Regions from separate parts of the Homo sapiens genome. Here region 1 is linked to region 2. The links come from fine-mapping of genetic effects on gene expression. A gene starts in region 2. The other region holds a variant in brackets. All regions are shown on one strand. Distances are from middle to middle.

Evidence for each region. PIP is the estimated chance that this variant, and not a neighbour inherited with it, causes the effect.
Region 1: its variant is the best candidate, but not a certain one, in a credible set for the expression of KLHL13 in esophagus mucosa (GTEx, PIP 0.69).

The regions. Positions count from the first base shown.
Region 1 is chrX:118,214,292-118,224,780 of GRCh38, forward strand. No RefSeq gene overlaps it. Among named protein-coding and RNA genes, the nearest start is that of KLHL13, 100 kb to the left of the region's middle. The variant G/A (reference allele first, on the strand shown) is at 6,007.
Region 2 is chrX:118,110,809-118,121,297 of GRCh38, forward strand. It overlaps KLHL13 (kelch like family member 13), which reads right to left and starts at 6,002. Exons shown (of 8, transcript NM_001168302.2): 1 at 5,700-6,002.

The DNA of each region.
Region 1 (10,489 bases), 100 kb after region 2:
AAGTGTTGGTATAAGCAAGGAGACTCCTTATGCAATCTTTCACATTACATTCAGGCAGGTCTACCATTTTCTATCTGTGCCTCTGAACAATTAGTTGCCACACCACCCTGGGCCTCAGTATCCTCATTTGTAACTTGAGAATAACCCCGTCTTTATGGCCAGGCGCAGTGGATCACGCCTGTAATCCCAGCACTTTGGGAGGCTGAGGCGGGCGGATCACGAGGTCAGGAGATCCGGACCATCCTGGCTAACACGGTGAAACCCCATCTCTACTAAAAATACAAAAAAATTAGCCAGGCGTGGTGGCGGGCGCCTATAGACCCAGCTACTCGGGAGGCTGAAGCAGGAGAATGGCGTGAACCCAGGAGGCGGAGCTTGCAGTGAGTCGAGATCGCGCCACTGCACTCCAGCCTGGGAGACAGAGTGAGACTCCGTCTCAAAAAACAAAAAAATGCTCTTCTATGCAATTGTAAACATTCTTGCAATAATTGAAAACATAGAAAATCTCTAAAAGAAATAGAAGATATAAAAGAGAAGTAAACGTAAAATTTATTTATTGATTTGTTTCTTTTTGAGACAGAGTCTTCCTCTGTTGCCCAGACTGGAGTGCAGTAATGCGATCTCACAGTGGCTCACTGCAACCTTCACTTCCCAGCCTCAAGAAATTCTCCTGCCTCAGCCTCCCCAGGCACGCACCACCAGGTCCAGCTAATTTTTTCGTATTTTTAGTAGAGACGGTGTTTCACCATGTTGGCCAGGATGGTCTCGAACCCCTGACCTCAAGTGATCCGCCTGCCTTGGCCTCCCAAAGTGCCTCACAGGCGTGAGCCACCACACCCAGCCCAAATGTAAAATTTAGAAATGGAAAACACAATAACAAAAATTTGAAACTCACTCGAAGGGATCAATAGCAGATTGGAGATGACAGAGGAAAGAGCCATTGAACTGAAAGATGAATGAAAAGAAATTATCCAATTGAACAAGAGAAAGAAAGAGATTTTTTTAAAACATATCTGATTTGTAGTGTTTGCTGATTTCTATACTGAAAATATTTCCACCATGGCCCATGTCAAGGTACCAACTACACATTAGTGAATGCATAGTCAGGAAGAGGTGCACACAACTGGCTGTTATCCATAAATATTGCTCACTCCTCAGGCAAAACCAGCAGTACTGTGGGCTATTGAGTCTCAACCTTCTGACCACACACACCCTGAGGCTGTTGATATCCTTTTTAGGCATTCTCAACTCCCTCTGAGCCGTCCCTGGTGTTCTCCTCAACCTGATTTCAAATGGATAAAAACGTGCAGAAGGCATACAGTAGGATTGCCAGGGCCATCCCCTCCATCTCTAGAGGAAGTCTGTATGTGTAAGACAACATTTCTCCAACAAGGAAATGAGCTAAATGACTTCAGCTAAAACCAACAGTATATTTCTCAAATTAGGAGCCTGATGTCTGACACAGATAAAATGTGGAAAACATAACCTAGATGAGCAAGTACAGGGTGGGCACACACCCTATATATGGAATGGCAAAGCTGGGCTTATAATTGATCCTCAGGTCTGTCTTGTCATTCTGGAGCTTTGTACCAAAAGCCGCTGTAGCATTCCAAATACAACCCCATGTTAAAATTACTCAGCACCCTCAAGAAAGGCTGAAAAACACGGTAGGCTGGAAGTTTCAGTGACAGGGATGCTATTCTGATTAAGAGTCAGTTGTTTGTCAACAAGCAAAGTTTCAGGGTAGGGACGGTTCTGAAATTCTTATACAGGGCTCCATGACATCAAAGATCCAAAGATCATAAGCCCCTGCAATGGCTTATGAGTATTAAATCCTCAAAGCCACAAATATCCCAGAAAGTTCCTCTCCAACCTAACCATCTCACTTGTACACAACACCCAAAGGTCCAGAGTGAACGAACGACTTTCTCAAGGTCATAAAACTAATGAGCCATAACAAAAAATGCAGTCTTCTGATTCCCAGTCCCGTGTTTTTTTCCTGACATCACACTTCCTCTTACACTTCCTTCCCTGAACAAGATTTATCTGGCTAATGGTAATAGAGATGAAAAAGTATTTGTGTGGTTTAGAGGAGAAACAAAAAAAACTAATGGGCCAGTCACAGTTGACTCTGATAGCATCAAGGAGGAGGTCAAGCTAGTGATATTGTTGTTGTGTAAGGTAGAAAATGGAAACGCATTCTGAATCGAGGAATTTGGATAGTCCCCTCTAAGAAGTTAGCAGGAACACTGTTTTGAGAAGTGCTCAGGGTGCAGCTGCAGTGTTATTACAGAGCTGTTGGGAAAGCCCAGTGCCCAAGGTGGTAAATGTATTCTAGGTGCTCCCTGCTACCACCCCGCCTCTGTAGCATACACTGCCAAGTCTGGTCAATTGTTTGACAAGGCAGCTGTGTGCATGCCCGTTAATTACACTGTGGAGCACCAAAGTGCAGTGTCAGGCAGCTGCCTAGAATATCAAAAGGCTGCTCGTGGGACAGGCCAGCTATAAGGGCTCTCTTCAGAGAAGTCCATACAGCAGCTGACTCTCCCTCCCCATCTCCCCCTGCCCTCGCCTACGCAGCCCCCTTTAAAGTCTCATTATGAAGGTTGGAATTCTATATTTTCACAGAGTTACTTTAGAATCCATAATGGAACAAGTGTTGTTGATCTTTCTGACATGCCTGAACGAGATGAATGTGAATACTATCTTACATTTCTGCCTCTCCTAATGGTAATATTTCCCTTGAAACCAATGTATCCTTTGCAATATGTTTACCCCATCTGATTAGAATTACTTTCAACTAATTCTATGCTTCCAAAATAATGGCAGCTAACACTTACATGGAGCTCCATATGTGCCAGGCACTTTATATAAAGTAATTTATTTACTCCTCACAATAACCCCAGGTAGATGTTATTAGTATCCCCATTTTATAGATGAGGAAACTGAGACTTAGAGGTTAAGTAATTTGTCCATATCACACGGCCAGTACACAGCAGAGCTGGTATTGAAACCTAGGCATGTGCCTCCTCCATCTCCATGTTTTGTTTTTTCTTTTTTTCGGAGTCTCGCTCTGTCACCAGGCTGGAGTGCAGTGGCACGATCTCAGCTCACTGCAACCACCGACTCCCTGGTTCAAGTGATTCTCCTGCCTCAGCCTACCGAGTAGCTGGGATTACAGGCACATGCCATCGCGCCCAGCTAATTTTTGTATTTTTAGTAGAGACAGGGTTTCACCATGTTGGCCAGGATGGTCTCCATCTCCTGACCTCATGATCCACCCAACTCAGCCTCCCAAAGTGCTGGGATTACAGGCATGAGCCACCATGCCCGGCCTCCTCCATGCTCTTAACCACTACAATGATACTGCCTCAACCAAAGCTAATGGTGCAGGCCCATCAGCCAACATTAATCTAGCTTCTATAATGTGCATATGTTTGATATTTTGTTCTACTTGCCGCCTTTAGAGTCAAGTCAATTTTCTCTACCTGTTTTTCCACAAATACAAGGAGGGAAAATTCAATGCCCTGGGGTGACACTGGGTGATCAAAGTTGACTGGGGTGATCAAAGAAGGCTTCATGGAAGAGGCGGATCTTGAGTTGGACCTTGAAAGTTTCAAGTCTGCCTATCAGAGGTTAAAGGAGTTAGAGAGGAGAGGTTATATCTGGCAAAGGGACCAATGTGAGCAAATTCACACAGGTAGGAATGTACATAGGAAATAAGTTAAACTGTGAGGCTGAGGTACTGCTGGTGTGCCTGGATCACAAAGAGATTTAGCTCCAATGTGAAAGATGGACTGATAGACTGGTATATGGATAAGGAGAAGGAGGAAGAAAGGAAAAAGTTGAAGTGTATGTATGTGTTTGTGTGTGTTTACATGTGTGTGTACCTGTGTATGTGTGTGTATATGTGTGTACATGCGTGTATGTGTATGTGTGTATATGGGGGGTGTGTATGTGTGCATGTATGTGTATGTACGTGTGCGTATGTGTGTGCATGTGTCTGTATGTGTGAGCATATGTGTATGTGTATGTGTGTATGTGTGTGTCTGTGTGTGCGCATATGTATGTGAGTATGTGTGTGCACATGTGTGTATGTGTGTAAGTGTGGGTATGTATATGTGTGTCTGTGTGTGTATGTGTCTGTGTGTATGTGTGTGCACGTGTGTGTGTGTGTGTGTAAAATAAGAAAAAGCTGGAGAAGCTGGCGATCATTCATCCATAATTTGTTTTCTCTCCCCCCTCCTTCCACCAAGACTCTGTCTGTCCATCACATGAGTTATTCACTGCCAAGCAAAAGCCTGATACTGCTGCATTCATAATTTTCTGAAAGTTAAAATCCAAGTGATTACAATTTTCTATTTCTGCCCCCTAAAAACAGGATTAAACTTTTTATGAAATTCTAATGCCTAACCTAATGTTCCAGCTTACTGAAAGCCCCCAATATGCAGCCACAGCAGTACATTTTCCACATTCTTAAAGCTTACTTCCTTTCAATACCCTCAACTGTTATTTTTGCCTTTTGTAAAAAAAAAAAAAAAAAATTGACGTATCATTTACATACAGTAAAATTCATCTTTTATTAAATTAGTTCTATGAGTGTTGACAAACCTCCAACAAAATCAAGATAGAAAACTGTTCCAATTCTCTCATGCTGCCCCTTTGTCCCCACCCTGCAGCTCCTGGCAACCACTGATCTATTTTCACATAAATGGAATTATACAGTACGTAGCTTCTTTCACTTAGCATACAGCATTTGAGTTTCATCCATTTTGTCATGTGAATCAGGTGTTTGTTCATTTTTATTGCTGAGTAGGATTCTACTTTATAGATGTTCTATAACTTTTAACCATTCACCAGTTGTAAGACGTTTGGGTGGCTTCCAGTTTTTAGCAGTTATGAATAAAGCTGCTATAAACATTGGCATACAGGGTTTTGTACAAACATAAGTTTTCGTTTCACTTGGGTGGGTAAATACTTATCTGATAAAAGGCTTATACCCAGAATATATAAAGAACTCGGAAAACTCAATAATACGAAAATAAATATTCCAATTTTTTTTTAAAGTCAAAATACTGGCTGAGCGCGGTGGCTCATGCCTGTAATCCCAGCACTTTGGGAGGCCGAGGCAGGTGGATCACGAGGTCAAGGGTCGAGACCATTCTGGCCAACATGGTGAAACCCTGTCTCTACTAAAAGTACAAAAATTAGCTGGGCGTGGTGGTGCTCGTCTGTAGTCCCAGCTACTCGGGAGGCTGAGGCAGGAGAATTGCTTGAACCTGGGAGGCAGAGGTTGCAGTGAGCCGAGATCACTCCACTGCACTCCAGCCTGGCGACAGAACAAGACTCCGTCAAAAAAAAAAAAAAGTTGAAATATTTCAACAGACATTTCATCGAAGAAGATAAACTGATGGCAAATAAGCCCATGAAAAGATGCTCGATATAATTAGTTGTTAAGGAAACGCAAATTAAAACCAAGATGATATACCACTGTGCACCTATTAGAATATAAAAAAAATTTAAACTGAAAATACCAAGTGGTGGCAAGAGTACAGAACTACAGGAACTCTCAAATATTGATACTAGAAATTCAAAATGGTACAGCCACTTTGAAAATCAGTTTAGCATTTTCTTATAAAGTTAAACATAAACTTGCCGTACATTCCAGCAATCCCACTACTAGGTGTTTACCCAAGTGTTTTCAATCACATTTCCAGGATGGGTTTTTTTTCCTGCCTTCTTAATCAGAGTAAAGTGAATATAATCTAATTATAGCTTGATGACTTGGGTCTAGCATTATAAGCACTATTGGATTATACTGGGATCCTGTTTTAATGTCTGGCTTCCAGGAAGAAAAAAGCTGTGTCTCCTTTATACCACTTTATGTTCTAAGTACTAAGAATACATACAGGGAGGCAAGAGAGTCCCTATCTAACAGGTGGAGATAATACTCAAGGCTGTTGTGGCCCATATGATTGTTTGTCTTTTGCTCAATAGCCTCTGACT[G/A]CTGAGCTTTTCCCAGTTTTTGCATATGTCTTTTAAAATTCTACTCCACCCCTGCATTCAAGATTTTGGCTGTTATTTCTCCTGATTCTCAGTGGACCTGCTGTTAATAGCCTCTCATCTAATTTGCTGTGGGCCAGCAAGCCAGATAATGAAGTCTATTAGAATTGTGTACAAAATAAGGTTACTGATTAAAGTTAGGACCTGACTGCCTCTCCTGATGCTTCTCCCACAGGATAAAGTCCATGGTCTTGATGATAGTTATTTTGACCTCTTAAAGGCCTTCTTTGTTTCCTTCCAGGTTCTGGACATCTTCCAGAAAGGCCACCTAAGATTACTGGCAGTCTAAACTACAGATAATGGGGATGGTACCACAGTTCACATCTACTATAATCTAATCTGTTGAAACCTTTGCTCTATCTCCATGCTGTGCAGAAGGACAAGTGAGCTTTATGATCTAGGGGAACTAGGTTTGCATAACTTTAATGTAGTTAACAACAGAACAATAGAGAACAAGCCATTAACCCAAAGAGCAAAGGCAAGGCCTGTTAGGACAGGAAAATGAGTGAAGATAAAATATATGCCAAGTTCTGCCTCCTACGCCCAAAAGCCTCTATTTCTCATTGGGACTACTGTATTTCAAAGAAAGTGCAAGTTTTTTTTTAAGTGTGTATATCCCATTTTCTATCCATCTTGAATGCAAAGTCATTCAGCACATACATCAGCCTCTCACTGCAACTTACAATTGTCCTTCTAGATTTGAAAGGCTTTGTGACCTCACAGAGGGACTGAATTACAACTAAAATTTAGCAGTAGAAACAGCTGTTCCTATGGATGCTTTCTTTCCTCTTCCACCTTGTTAGAGTAAATCTTCAGAAATTCAAATAAAATAAAGAAACTACTTACCTTCTTAAATAATCTCTGCTTTACCAAACAGAATCATACCTTCTATTGTCTTCCTTTTTAAAAAAAAATCAGTGGGTTTTGGGCAAGGTCTGCTTTGTGCCAAATACATTGTCTCAAATACATCAGCGATTTCCATTCCAAAGAAGAGTTCAGTCACTTGCTGAATAAAATAATTTTCCACAGCACAGGAAATGAGGAGATTGGATATTCTATCAGATGGGCAACTGAACAAACAGGGCTCCAGGTGGCTAATGTCACAAGGATGAAGGCGCCCAGGGGAATAAGGAGGCTTTGGAGTTTCAATGGCCTTCTCTTCATCAACATCCAACAGAACGTAATTGCATTTCCACCACGATAGCAGGATTTTTCCAACCATCCCCCAGATAATAATCTATTCTAATGTAATGCAGTTTCTTTAGAAGGACACAATTTATTGCAATACTGAGCTATTTATTTCCTTCCTTTCCTTTAATTATCTATCTTTGACCTTAGTCTTAAAAAAAAAACTCTCTTTTTGTTGGCTAGTTCCAGCTAAAGGTACCCTGTTGAAGAAAATGGACTCCTGTTATTTCTATGAAAGATTTTAAAAGGTTGAGAAAATATTTTGTCTGTTTTATTTTAATTAAAATTGACTATGACATTTTTCTTTCCGAGAAACATCATTTCCAAGCTCTGCTTCTGACGTAATTGCATGCTTTTAAAAAAAAAAATCCCTAAATGGCTTTGTGTCAGTGAAGTGACTAATAGCATTCACCACTCATAAAAAAAATAGCTCGTTTATGTTAGCTACATTTAGATAGTTGTCTATGCAACATGAAGTTAATTTGATTAACTTAGATGAGCACTGTACTGCTCATGGCACATCTTCTTCAAAACCCTTAAATGATATTAAGGAAATATTGTCAGCTCTTTTGTGTGATCATGGTTTTGTGGTTATTTTTGTAAAAAATCTTTATGTTTCAGGGACACATGTATGAAACAATAGGATGCCTAGGATTTGCTTCCACATAATAAGGGGTAAATGGGGCATGAGATTAAATGAGAGTGGTCATAAGATGACAATTGCTGCAGCAGGGTGATGGCTGCATGAGGAGTTGTCATATTGTTCTGTTACTTTTGTATATGTTCAACATTTTCCATAGTAAAAAAGTGAAAACCTTTAATCACTCTAATGCCCAAAAATGTATCAACTTCTCAAGACAGAAAGGCTAAAGAGGAAATAAAATTATAAAGAAAAAGAAAAATTTTTTTAAGTATCAACTCCTTAGTCTGTCTTTCAAAGCCTTGGTTAAACTTTGCATTTACAAAGCTAATTTGTAAACCTAGCCTCTCCCTATTCTCACTCATGTAACCTCTGCACCAGCCAAACTGGACTACTGACAATCTACTGAAAATGTCTGGTATATACTCACTTCTGGATTCTAGCACATTTGATCCCCTCTGCCAGAAATGTCTTGCCTTTCCCATATCTATTTCTGTCAAATTCCATCCAGTCCCATATCAAATGTCACTTGTTCCATGAAGGCTTGCATTAATCCCTCATTGGAAATCAAATCTTTTCCCATCATAGTCTGTTTGCATTGTCTGTTTAATTATTACATGATTACCTAATTAAATGAGGTATAAACTTAATGGTAAAATTGTTCACAGAAAATAATGATTTGGTATAGTTCAGTGTAAAGATGGTATTAGATCAAAATTTTATTGAATATTTACCTGACATGCAACACTGTGATTTATTCTTGGAGCATTATATAAAGAATGGAATCTGGTCCCAAATTAAGTATCTCTGTACTTAACTTCTAATCACAGATTAGAATGATGGAAGGGAAAGCATGACATTATCAGTAAGCATTTACTGGGTGCCCACCAAAAAACGGGAATGCCCAAACGCTAGTCGTAACCATTTGCACAGACACAGTTTCTATCCCTCCAGAGCTTTCAAACTAAGCCTTAAAATACAGTTGTCCCTTAGTACCCATGAGGGATTGATTCCAGGACACCTACATATACCCAAATCCTTGCATACTCAAGTCCCACAGTTGGCCCTGTGGAACCACCATATAGGAAAAGTTGGTCCTCCTCAAAGGCAGTTTTGCATCCCAGAAATACTTTTGTTCCTCATTTGATTGAACAAAAAAGCCACATGTAAGTGGACTTTTGCCGTTCAAACCCCTGTTCTTCAAGGATCAACTGCAGATGCAGATGGACAGGCCCAGATAGACAACAAGTGTTTCTATTTCAAGAGTGAGCACATTTGACATGGGAAATCTTCTCATGATACAATATTAAGTTGAAAAAAGGACAGAATACTAAACTATATATATAATATGACCCTATATATAAACATGACCCTAGTTTTGTAAGAAAAAAGCAGTTTCTATATATAGAAAAAAAGAAAAAGGAATTACAAAAAAGTTAACAGTAGTTATTTCTAGGTGATAACATGAGAGATAATTTTTCTTTCTTTTAGTTTTTTGGTACCTCTAAAATTTTTATAATGTGCAGCTATATTTACATAATGAGGGAAAGATAATGATTTTTAAAGTATATTTAGAAAATTAAATCTCATGCCATATACCAAATGGATTAAATATTTGAATCTGAAGTACCAGAACCATAAAAATACTAGAATAAAACGTGGGCAATTTTTTTATAATTTCAGGGTGGGAAAGATCTAAGATGCCATATAACCCAGAAGCCATAAAAGCAAAGATTGATCAATTTGACTATATAATCTAAAAAAATTGTATCACAAAAAATCATTATCAGGAAATCAAAGACAAACTGGAAAAAATAGCAACACGCCCTACAGACAAACGGCCAGTTTCCTTAATATATAAAGGACCCCTACATATCAATAAAACTAAGGCCAAGAACCCAATTACAAATTAGACAATGGATAAATATAGATAATTCACTTAAAAAGGAAATAGCTATTTCTCTTAAACATATGAAATGTGTTCAGTCTCATAAATGTGCAAACTAAATCTAGAATATGTACAACTACAATATGTATCAGATAAAGAAAGATAAAAATAACACATTCTGTTGCAAGAGTGTGGGGAAATGGGCACCCTCATACATTGTTGATGGGATTAATAATTATTTTGATTGCAATAGAGACAATTTGGTAATTTCTATCAAAATTAAAAATATACCCACCCTTTGACCCAGCAATTTCCATTCAAGGGATTTAACCTACAGATATACTCCCATATATACAAAAAGACCTTTACAAAAATAGGCATTAGAGCAATGTTTGTAATAGCAAAAACTTTGAAACCATCTAGATGTCCGTCAACAAATTATGGCTCATCCATACATTGAATTGGGCATTTTTACATGTACTGATATGAACTACCTCCAAAATAATGCTAAATGAAAAAAGTTGAGTGTTGATGAGTGTATAAAGTATGTTATTATTTGTATTGTGTAAATGCTTAGAATGTCTTTGGAAAATAAATACAAGTTGGTGGTAGTTATTGCCCTGGGGAAGGAAATCGAATGGCTGTGATTAGAATAGAAGGACAACTTTTCACTTTTTGAGTTTTTTAAATGTATTTACTTATTTTTACTG
Region 2 (10,489 bases):
ACTCTCTTGTGCTAAAGAAGCATAGGTTGGTTTAAATAACAACAGAAAAACAAAAACTAAACTGCTCTGAATGGTACCAGATGAGAGTACTAACAGACGAGTCTTGGCTCATTTCAATTACATGACCCTGCCATATCTATTTTCCTATGACATGAGAACCACACAGCCAGTCCTCTATTTACAGTTATTGCATGAGTAAATCAGTATATATTTACATGGTAACTATTATGAGCAAGCTATTGGGAAAGATAAAGTAGTTTATTTACCTCCCTAATCTCCACCACCCACAGCAACAACATACTATGTGCAAGGCCCTGATTTAAGCAGTTTACTGCAAGGTGTACAATCTCATCGAAAAATCTTGGTGCCAGATGTGTTTCTGAATTTAGAAATGTCCAGACCTTTAGACAGGAAATATACTTTATATACCATATGTTATGTAATACACCATTAGGGTCTATGGTGCAACCCCATAAACATATTAGTAATTCTATAGCAAAACAAAATAAAGATCAACATTAAGTAGAATAAAGACTATAAATACCCTATGTCAGTTTAAGTCAGGTTTTGCCACCACATGAGTTTTGGCATCTAAGTTACCAAATAAAATCTTTTTCAGTTTTCAGAGCTTTAGAAATTTAAAAATTGCAAACAAATTGTGGGCCTAGGCCGGGGGAGGTGGTTCATGCCTGCAATCCCAGCACTTTGGGAGCCCGAGGTGGGTGGATCACCTGAGGTCAAGAGTTTGAAACCAGCCTCGCCAACATGGTGAAACCCTGTCTCCACTAAAAATAAAAAGTTAGGCCGGGAGCAGTGGCTCACGCCTGTAATCCCAACACTTTGGGAGGCCGAGGCAGGTGGATCACGAGGTCAGAAGATCGAGACCATCCTGGCTAACATGGTGAAACCCTGTCTCTACTAAAAATACAAAAAACTAGCCTGGCGTGGTGGCACGCACCTGTAGTCCCAGCTACTCGGGAGGCTGAGGTAGGAGAACCGCTTGAACCCAGGAGGCGGAGGTTGCAGTGAGCCGGGATCATGCCACTGCACTCCAGCCTGAACGATAGAGTGAGAGAGCGAGACTCCGTCTAAAAAAAAGAAAAAGAAAAAGAGAAAAGAAAAAGTGGGCCTAGCTAATTCATGTAATCTTTGCAAGTACCATAAGAGGCAAGTTCTATTACCCCTTTTTTACATATGAGATAACTGAGGTACAGGGAGGTTTACTGACTCACCCAGTGTCTCACAACTATTAAGTCTCCTAGCTGGAATTGAAACCTAGGTGGCCTAGCTCCAGAGCTTGAGCTCTTAACAAGTATGCTCTACAACCTCTCTCAGAAACCACTTCGGAACACCAAACACGTGAAAAGTAAAACAGTATTAAATGATCTAACATCAAAAAATTAATAGGAGAAACATCACAAGACAGTATTTATTCATTATTCAATAACTATTTATAAAGTGCATACCATGTGCTGGGTGCTCAGAATACAACAATGAGCAAACCGGATGAGGTCTAGGTCGCCTTCATGAAGCCAGAGGCAAGTGGGGAGATGGCCAGGCATCAAATAAGCATAATTATGACACAACAGGGCAAGTGTGTGACTGCTGTTCACCTTCAGAGGGGGAGATCTAGTTCAATGGGGAATAGTGTAATAGGACCTGGAATTTGAAATGACAAAAAAGAAAGGCATGGCATCCATTTGACAAGCACCCACTGTGCACGTACTCTATGCCAGGAATAATGCTAAGCACAAAAGTTCCAAACTGGGGAAAATCAGTTTAAACCAATAGAGATTTGTGAAAGGGAATAATAAGGACATATGGGAAAGTAGGCTGGGATCAAATCAAGTTGACCCTGCAGGCACTGATGAAGGTTATTTTGCAGGTTATTCCCCCACAATATTAGGATTTACTCCTATGGAATGTCAATAATCATCTGCATTCCTATTTGGGACCAACTAGACCTCAAAGCTGGATTGCTTTCAAGGAAGGGCTTAGGGCAATAAATTCATTTAAGCCTCAGGAAACACAGTAACCCTAATCTCTCAAGGAATAAAGGTATGGCCATTTGAAAATGTTGGAGAGGCAACAGGTAAAAGAAAATGATAAGCCCTTCTTAAAATTCCAAAGGCCCTTTCTAAAACCTAGGTTATTCCTTTATACAAAATAAAATTTCCAACCTTCCAAAGGAAACATATTTCCATGAGAAAATAAGATATCATTCTTTGAAAAATAAATTCTTAAGTTGAACAATGATCTGATTTTTAATAAAGTTGGTGACAACTTACCTTGTAGCACAAGTCACAATGTGACAGTGGAAAGTAAACTGCCTTTTAACATACTCACCTCAGGGTTCCCATTCCCCCATCCCCTTACCTAAACAGAGTAGAGGAACCGAATTACATGATTATTTAGCATACTGATCATAGAGTTTTTTTTATTCTCAGGTATTAATATAAATGACTGAATGAGTAGACATTCTATTTATCCTCTGCAAAACATTTTTTTTTAAATTTCCCTGGATAATTTTTTTAAGCCAATGACCTTCCCCAGGAAAGACTCTTCAGTGGCTTCCTATTGTTCTGAGAATCAAACCCAAATTCTTTCTCAGGACCTCCAAGTCCTATTTATCGGTTATTGAGCTGCTTCTAGGCTCTGTAACATCTTCTTTAATCCGCCATGCTGGCTTGCTTTCTGCTCTTCAAAAACGCCAAGTCTCTTTTTCCCCCCTCAAGGCCTTGGCTCTTACTCTTCTCTCTGCAAGAATGTTATCTCGGGAATGTTCTCCCAGATCCTGACAAGGTAGGCCTATTCTCTCTTCTCTTTCAGGTCTCTGCTCAATCATCTTCTCTGAAAGGCCTTTTCTGACTTCCCACACTAAAGTAGGCCCTTCCTAGCTATCTGTATCATATTCCCCTACTTATTTTCATTGCTCTTACTACAGTCTATAAGGATCTTCTTCATTTGTTTGCTCGTTTATTGTCTGTATTCTCTGGTAGAATATAAGCACTGTGATACTCCACAAGAGCAAAGATCATGCCTTATAAGGTTTATCATTGTGCCTAACACAGGGCCTTGGCACACAAGTACCCAGTAGATTTTGTAAAATGAATTAGTAAATGAATGAATGATACATAAAAACCTGATTGTTATGAATATCAGTAACTTGAGAAAGCCATTTTTATAATTTTGAGATATTTTCTCTAGGGCTATTCATTTCTCTACAGTCTTTCCACATTTTCTGAAATAATTCCTGGAAATTTGTTGTATTATTTCATAGCAATAAAAATACATCGGTTTCAATCAGTGGATTTAAGAAAAAAATATTTTCAAGAGGTTTTAGTGGTTTATCAAACATCAATAAAAATCAAACAATTTGAAAATTGGTCAGTCTCATTTCACTACTGCAAGTCAAATTACATGAAGAAGCATAATTTGAAATGTACATAAAATGAGAAAGAAGATAATCCAATAAGTAAGTGCAGTTACATTTAGTAATATCAGAAATATCCAGTCTGCTAACCTCTAGGTGTACCAGATGGACTATCAAACACATATTGAGTCATATTGAAGATTCAGAGCAAAATGCTTATGGCTAACTCATCCACCTTTATTCTTTTCCTGGCAAATATAAATAGTCTTACTATGCAATCACATTAGCAGCAATCTTAGCTTAGATTTTGTATCAATAATAAGCATGAAAAGAAAAAAGTAAGAAAATAGTATAAACTCTTTTCCTTGAAAAAGTTGTAAGTTTTTATGTATTTTGAGAATAGTTTGCTAAGAAAATTACAGACTTAGAAAGTGGGCCTATTAGAATAAGTACCCTTTCCCTACTACATTCCATTTTTTAATAAACCTCAAGTAAACTCAGGAATTTACCAAATCAATTGGGAAACTACAAATCATCTGCAAGTTATCTAACTAAATTGATAAGCAATAGGCCTTACTTTTCTTGTGAAAACTACTTTCTTCAGAACATCAACTGAGCCTTATATAATCACACTACACTTTTTGAAGTGTGCTTATAAAAATGGCAGATTGAAAACCTTGGGCTTTTTAATAATTGAAGCTCTTATTTATCTGTTTTTTAAATACATCATTTGATGTTGCAGCAGAAACTACTCTCATCTCACTGCCATAAGACGTGCTACCAGGACAGTGAAATTTAGCCATTATCTTCATTCACAACCTGGTTTCTTCTGAGATTGCTGCCAATTAGTGCACACTGTGTCAATGGCAACACTTGGTCATACATCAGGCAAACAACTCTTTTACCGTTAAGTATGAGGATATTAATAAGAACTTGCAGTTAAGGGAGCTAATATTTTTAGATGTAAAATGATGTCATAAATGCTGAATTATTTCATTTTTCTCAGTTTTTAAATTTGAACACTAGATACAGTCTATTTCCAAAAACACAGCTGCGTATGTCAGCATGTGCTTGTTCACTGGTATTTGCCTCCACTTTGTGCTTCTCCATTCAGCTTTCTTCACACACTAATTGCAGTATGAAAGTGAGCAAATGAACCTCAGTATGGGAGCTAACACCACAACTACATGGGGAGAAAGCGATATCGCTAAGAGTGAGTAGTCTTTTTTGTAACTACGTGGTTTTAAAATATGCTGCTTTTAGAGGGTTTATACAAACATGAAATCTACTGTTAAGAAACTGTGGCTTCAAAAAAAAGAAAGCAGGTGCCCTCCAGAGACAGTTTTAAATCCCAGCGTCTCTTAGTCTCCATTCAATGTGCTTAGTTACCAGCCTATGCTAACTTGAGCGACTTTATCCCAAACCACTAAAGTCCTCTGACTACATTAAAACGATTAACATCCTAGTTTACAATTAGAGAAATGGAGCCAGGCATCACAATTCCCACCAATCCTCTCTCTCAGGCCTGCTCAGCAGCCAGGGAAGAATCAGATTTAGGACCATGTACGAAGATTGCGTACCAACATATATACATACATTTTAAGTGGCTATTGTTCTTGGACTAAGTTAATGAAACCTAGAAAGAAACTTTAAAGTTCCCTAGTTGATATTTACTAAGGCTATTTAGTGAAGGAATGATCTCATCACTTTCAGTAAACTGTAGCCTAGACTATAAGCCTCCAAGAAAATCATTAGTCAACTGTAATTAAACAAACAAACAAACAAAAAAGTCAAAATATTCAGAGCTGAAGACATTCAGAGCTAAGTTAAAAGCTTCGAGGAAGAAGAGGAGTGTGCTCCTGACTTGGGAGCCAGCAGAGGAGCCTCCTAAGTTAGAAGATTCTGAAGGAGAGATGGATTAGGAGGCACAAAGCAGAAACTGTTAGAGGGCAAGAGACAGTAGGGCCGGGGCGGGCAGCGGGACCCCAGACCGTCAGGGCAGCAACAGCGAGGCCCAGAGGAGAAGATCTTGGAGAGATGACAAAGAAGCACAGGAAAGCCGGGTTCTGGGGTCCTAGAAGAACCCAGGCGTCCGACGGAGCCAGAGGGACCGGCAGAAAGGGATGCGAAGGTGTAAGGATGAGGGCGCGCACCAGCACGCGGGAGAAAAAGAGGGGGCGGCGGGCAAAATGAAGCTGTTTCCCTGCTCCTCTGCTCCTCTGCCCCTGGTACAGATCGCAACTCCTCGCCGCGCACCGCGCAGCGCCGGGTCCGAAGGCAGGGAAGCGGCTGCTGGAGCCCCTGTGACTTCAGGACCCTGCCTCACCTTGCTCGCCGCGTCCTGGCGTCCCGCCGCTTGTCCGCCGGGTGCTGCGCTCCGAGGGCCAAAGAGGGAGTCGCGCGGCGCAGCCGGGGCTCCCTCCTGCTGCGAGGCACCAGCACCCGCACCTTCGCACCCTCTGCTCGCCCCGACCACTTCACCCTGTCCTGGCGCAGGCGGAGAGCACGGACCCTAACCCGAATGCCGCTGCAGTTATTTTCAAAAGTCCCCGTTCCAGGCTTCCCAGGAATAGGAGCTGAGCTACTGCGGCCGCAGCGGCAGAGCCTCCGCCTGACCTCACCAGGGTGTGGGGGGGCTGCTGAGGGAGGGGGGCGGGAACCCAGTTGGGGAGGGAGGGGGCAGTGGGGGGGGGAGCGCGCGGGCGGGGGAAACATGGCGGCGGGGGTGGCCCCGGCGGCGCCTGCGCGGGAGGCAGGGTGGCGGGGAGCCGGGGCTAGGACGGTGTGTGGGGTCCGAACGGAACTCCCAGGCTGTAGCGAAAGCGTGACAGGGCCGGACCCTGAAGCTGAATGACCGCTAAGTGGCCCTCACGCCTCGGAAACCGGGAGGCTCTGGTGTGAGCCCACATGGATTCTAGTGCCGGGAGGCAGAAAAAGTGAAAAGTGTCAAGTATCCAGGGACAACAGTGCAGCCGCCCCGGGTTAGCCACTCCAAGGAGGTCCACCCGTGCATTCTGCCAGCCGTGGCCTCGGCCTCCTCATAGTCACGGCGGGGCCCGAGCAAAGGGTGTGCCCTGGAAGCGGTGCCACCTCACCTCAGTGGGGCCCACGTCTCAAAATAAGCCTGACCCAGGCTCTCACACAAATATCACTCTTCTAGTGGGATAAGCGCTTCATCCCTCCCCCTCCCTGCTGCAGTACACAACATTAAGAAAGAGGAAGGATAAAAACTACAAATAACAGTTTAACATTTTACTGAGCGTCTGCTATGAACCAAGCACTGAAGCATCAACTTACCTAATTCACAGCTACTCTACAAGTTACACACTATTGTCTCCATTTTACAAGTGACAAAACTGAGGTGTATAGGTTAACCAAGTTGCCAGAGGTTACATAAATAGTAAGTGGCAGAGCGGGACTCAGGATCCCAAGCGGTGTGATTCTGGTACCCAGGCTCTTAACCACTATGCAAACTGCTTCCAAACTCTGGTGGGACTGCTCTTCTAAGTCAGAATCTTGATTCTGCTCTATCAGCCTAGCCCCCAAAAAAAACCCCAGTCAAGCCTGTTTTTCCCCTTGCTTGTCTTCTATTCATTCTTTGCCTTCTTGACGGTTACAGCCTGGGGCCACCTTCTTACACCTATTCCTTTGCCCTTTCTACTTATAATTCCAGACTCCTCCTTGGGAAAATAAAGGGAGTTTGCTCTTAGCAACCAGTTTAATCACTATTGTGATTTTTTTTCTTTGGCTGTTTTTTTCTTCTTCTTCTTCTTAAGGAAGTGATGCGGTGAGTGTGGAATCTTTATGTTTTCTAGGATTTCTCCCTCTGGGATCTGAGATCTTCAACATTGCTGACTTTGTATTTCAACTTACATACACTGAAATTCTAGTAGTAGGTTTTAGGTAAATTTGAGAATAATCAGCTACTCAAAAACTTGCTAGAACTAAAGATAATACCACATTGTTGGACTTTACCAAATAATCAAAGAACTCCAAATATACATAGAATTTGCATTATTACCTTTTACGTGCAAGTGTATTGAACCCAATTCCCCTTTGTTAACAGGAATGCTTCCACTGGCTTCTCCACTATGCTTATTCAATAATTATTGTATACCTACCTTACACACTAAATGCTTATTGGGTAGAAAGCACCTTGTACAGAAGTTTACAATCTCACTGAGGTGATATATTCCAAACAATCACTTTTAGCATGTATCAAAAACCTGGCACACAGGTTAAAAAAAAAATAAGTACAAACTGAGCTGGTGTACACTCGAGTCACTGCTTTGTCCTGCCATAAAAAGGTTCAAGTGGGGTTACTTTATAATAAGTTTCTCCCACAGAAATGCCAGTAAAAATGGGATAATCCAGTGTGGGCCAAGCAGCCCTTATCTACACAAAGAGAAAACCCTCATAGCAAGGGTGTTGAGATGGGGGCAACTGCAGGATCTGCATTTGAACTGCCAGTAGCTTGCACAGATTCTCAGTTTAAAAAAAAAGAAAAAAGAAAAAGAACTGGCAATAAGATATTACAAATATGCTTATCCAATAGAAGTCCATTGCTGTTTGGGTTCGGATGCTTTATCTGAATACTTAATCTACTGGATAGAGCACTAGACTCAGAGTCAGAAGACAATTTATGTGCTATGTGACATTAAGTTAGTGCTCTGAGAGTGTTTTCCCAAATTTCCAGTGGGGAGCAAAATAATACTGGTCTGATATGCCCCACAGCATTGTTTTGGGTTTCAAATAAGATAACACATGGGAGAGTATGTTGCATTTGGAGAAAAGGTCTTTAAAGAGGTAATTCAGTTAAAGTAATGTCTCTAAGATGGGCCCGAATCCAATATGACTGGTGTCCTTTTAAGAAGAGTTTAGGACTTAGACATATATGCACATAGAGGAAGGACCATGTGAGGATGCAGTGAGAAGGCAACCACTTGCAAGACAAGATGGGGCTTCAGAAGAAACCAAACTTACCTACACCTTGATCTTCCAGAATTACAAGAAAATAAATTTCTGTTGTTTAAGTTACCCAGTCTATGGTGTTATACTTTGTTATGGCAGGTCTAGCAAACGAACATAATGGGAAGCATTTCAAATGCCAGCTAGAGTATCCGCTGACTTAGTTATTGTTCATTGCTAAAAACACACACATTAATTATCTGTTTCCACGTGTCAGGAGTCCAGGTATGGTTTAGCTTGGAGCACTGCTCAGGGTCTCACAAGGCTGCAATCAAGTTTTTGGCTGGGCTGTGTTCTCATGTGCAACTCAGAATCTTCTTCCAAACTCATTCAGATTGTTGGCCAAATTCAGTTCCTTGCAGTTACAGAATTAAGACCCGTAGCATTTACTGGATCTAGAGGCAGCCCCTCTCCATTAGCAGTTGACAACATGGTTGTTCTACTTAGCCAAGGCCAACAGAAAAACTTCTTTCTCCTCAGGAGGGGTCCAGTGCCTCTTTTAAGGTCTTTTACCAGATTAAGTCAGGCCCACCCAAGATTATCACCCCTTTGATTAACTCAAAAATTAACTGTGTGCCTTGATTACATCTGCAAAATCTCTTCACCTTTGCCACATAATGTAACCTAATCACAAGAGTGATAGCCCAGCATATTCACAGGTCCCAACCATACCTAAGTGGAGAATGTATAACAGAAGACAAGAATCTTAGGACCATCTTAGAATTCTCCCTACCATGCCCCAAAGATTTGACAGCACCAATTAATTATACAATTATAAAAATTAACTAAGAGACCATACAGGCAGATGTGGGCACACACATAACATACATACACACACACACACACACACACACACACACACCAAAGTACACAGAGCTGGTAGCTGATCCCTAATCGGTCTAAAAGCATTTGCAAGCTTGCTGTGTGCCTAATGTGAAACTAAAAGATTTCAACTGCATTAATTCTGACTAAAAAACAAATTGAAAACTATTTAGGATACATTTTGTCTCTCTGGTAAATTTGCATTTCCTCAAAACACTCATCTCATCAATTATTGAATGGAGCCTATTATTGAATGGAATCTATTATAAAAAAAAAAACCCTCACAGGGCTTTGGGTAGCATACACAGAAGGGTCTTGCTTTAGAAGTTAGAGATAAATCTGATTAAAGATGTGTAAGACCTGTCCTGAAAACTTTAGGCTTAAATAAATGTAGAAATATACTGTATTCATAGGGCAGAAGAATTGATATCATTAAGATGTCAATTCACTCCTAATTGATTTATAGTTACAGCACAACCCCGATCAAAGTCCTAGCTGGCTTTTTCTGTAGAAATTGACAAGCTGATTCTAAAGTTCATATGGAAATTGAATAAAATAGCCAAAACAACTTTTACAAAGAGCATTAGGGGGATAATACTACCTGATTTCAATTTTTACTGTAAAGCTACAATATTCAAGACAGTGTGGTATTGATCAATGAAACAGAATAGAGTCCATAAACAGACCCACAACGTATATGGGCAAGTTATTTTCAACAAATATTCAAAAGCAATTCAGCTTTTTGAGGAACCTCCATACTTCTTTCCATAGTGAGAGCACCAGTTTATATTGCCACCAACAGTCTCCACATCCACGTCAATACCTGTTATTCATCCTTTTGACAATAGCCATTCTAACAGCTGTGAGGTGATATTTCACTGTGGTTTTAATTTGCATTTCCCCTGATGATTAGAGATTTTCAACATTTTTTAATATATTTGTTGGGGATTTGTATCTCTTCTTTTGAGAAATGCCTGCTCAGATTCCTTTCCCCTCTCTGGGTATATATTCAAAGGAATTGAAATCAGTATGTTAAAGAGATATCTGCACTCCAGTGTTTATTTCAGCATTATTCATAGTAGTCAAAACGTGGAAGCAATCTAAGAATCCATCAATGAATGAATGGATAAAGAAAATGTAGTACATATACACAATGAAATACTATACAACCTTAAAAAAGAAATTCTGTCATTTGCATCCATGACAACATGGAAAGAATTGGAGGAAATTATGCTAAGTGAAATAAGCCAGACATAGACAATACTGTATGATCTCACTTATATGTGGAATCTAAAAAAGTCAATCTCATAGAAACAGAAAGTAGAA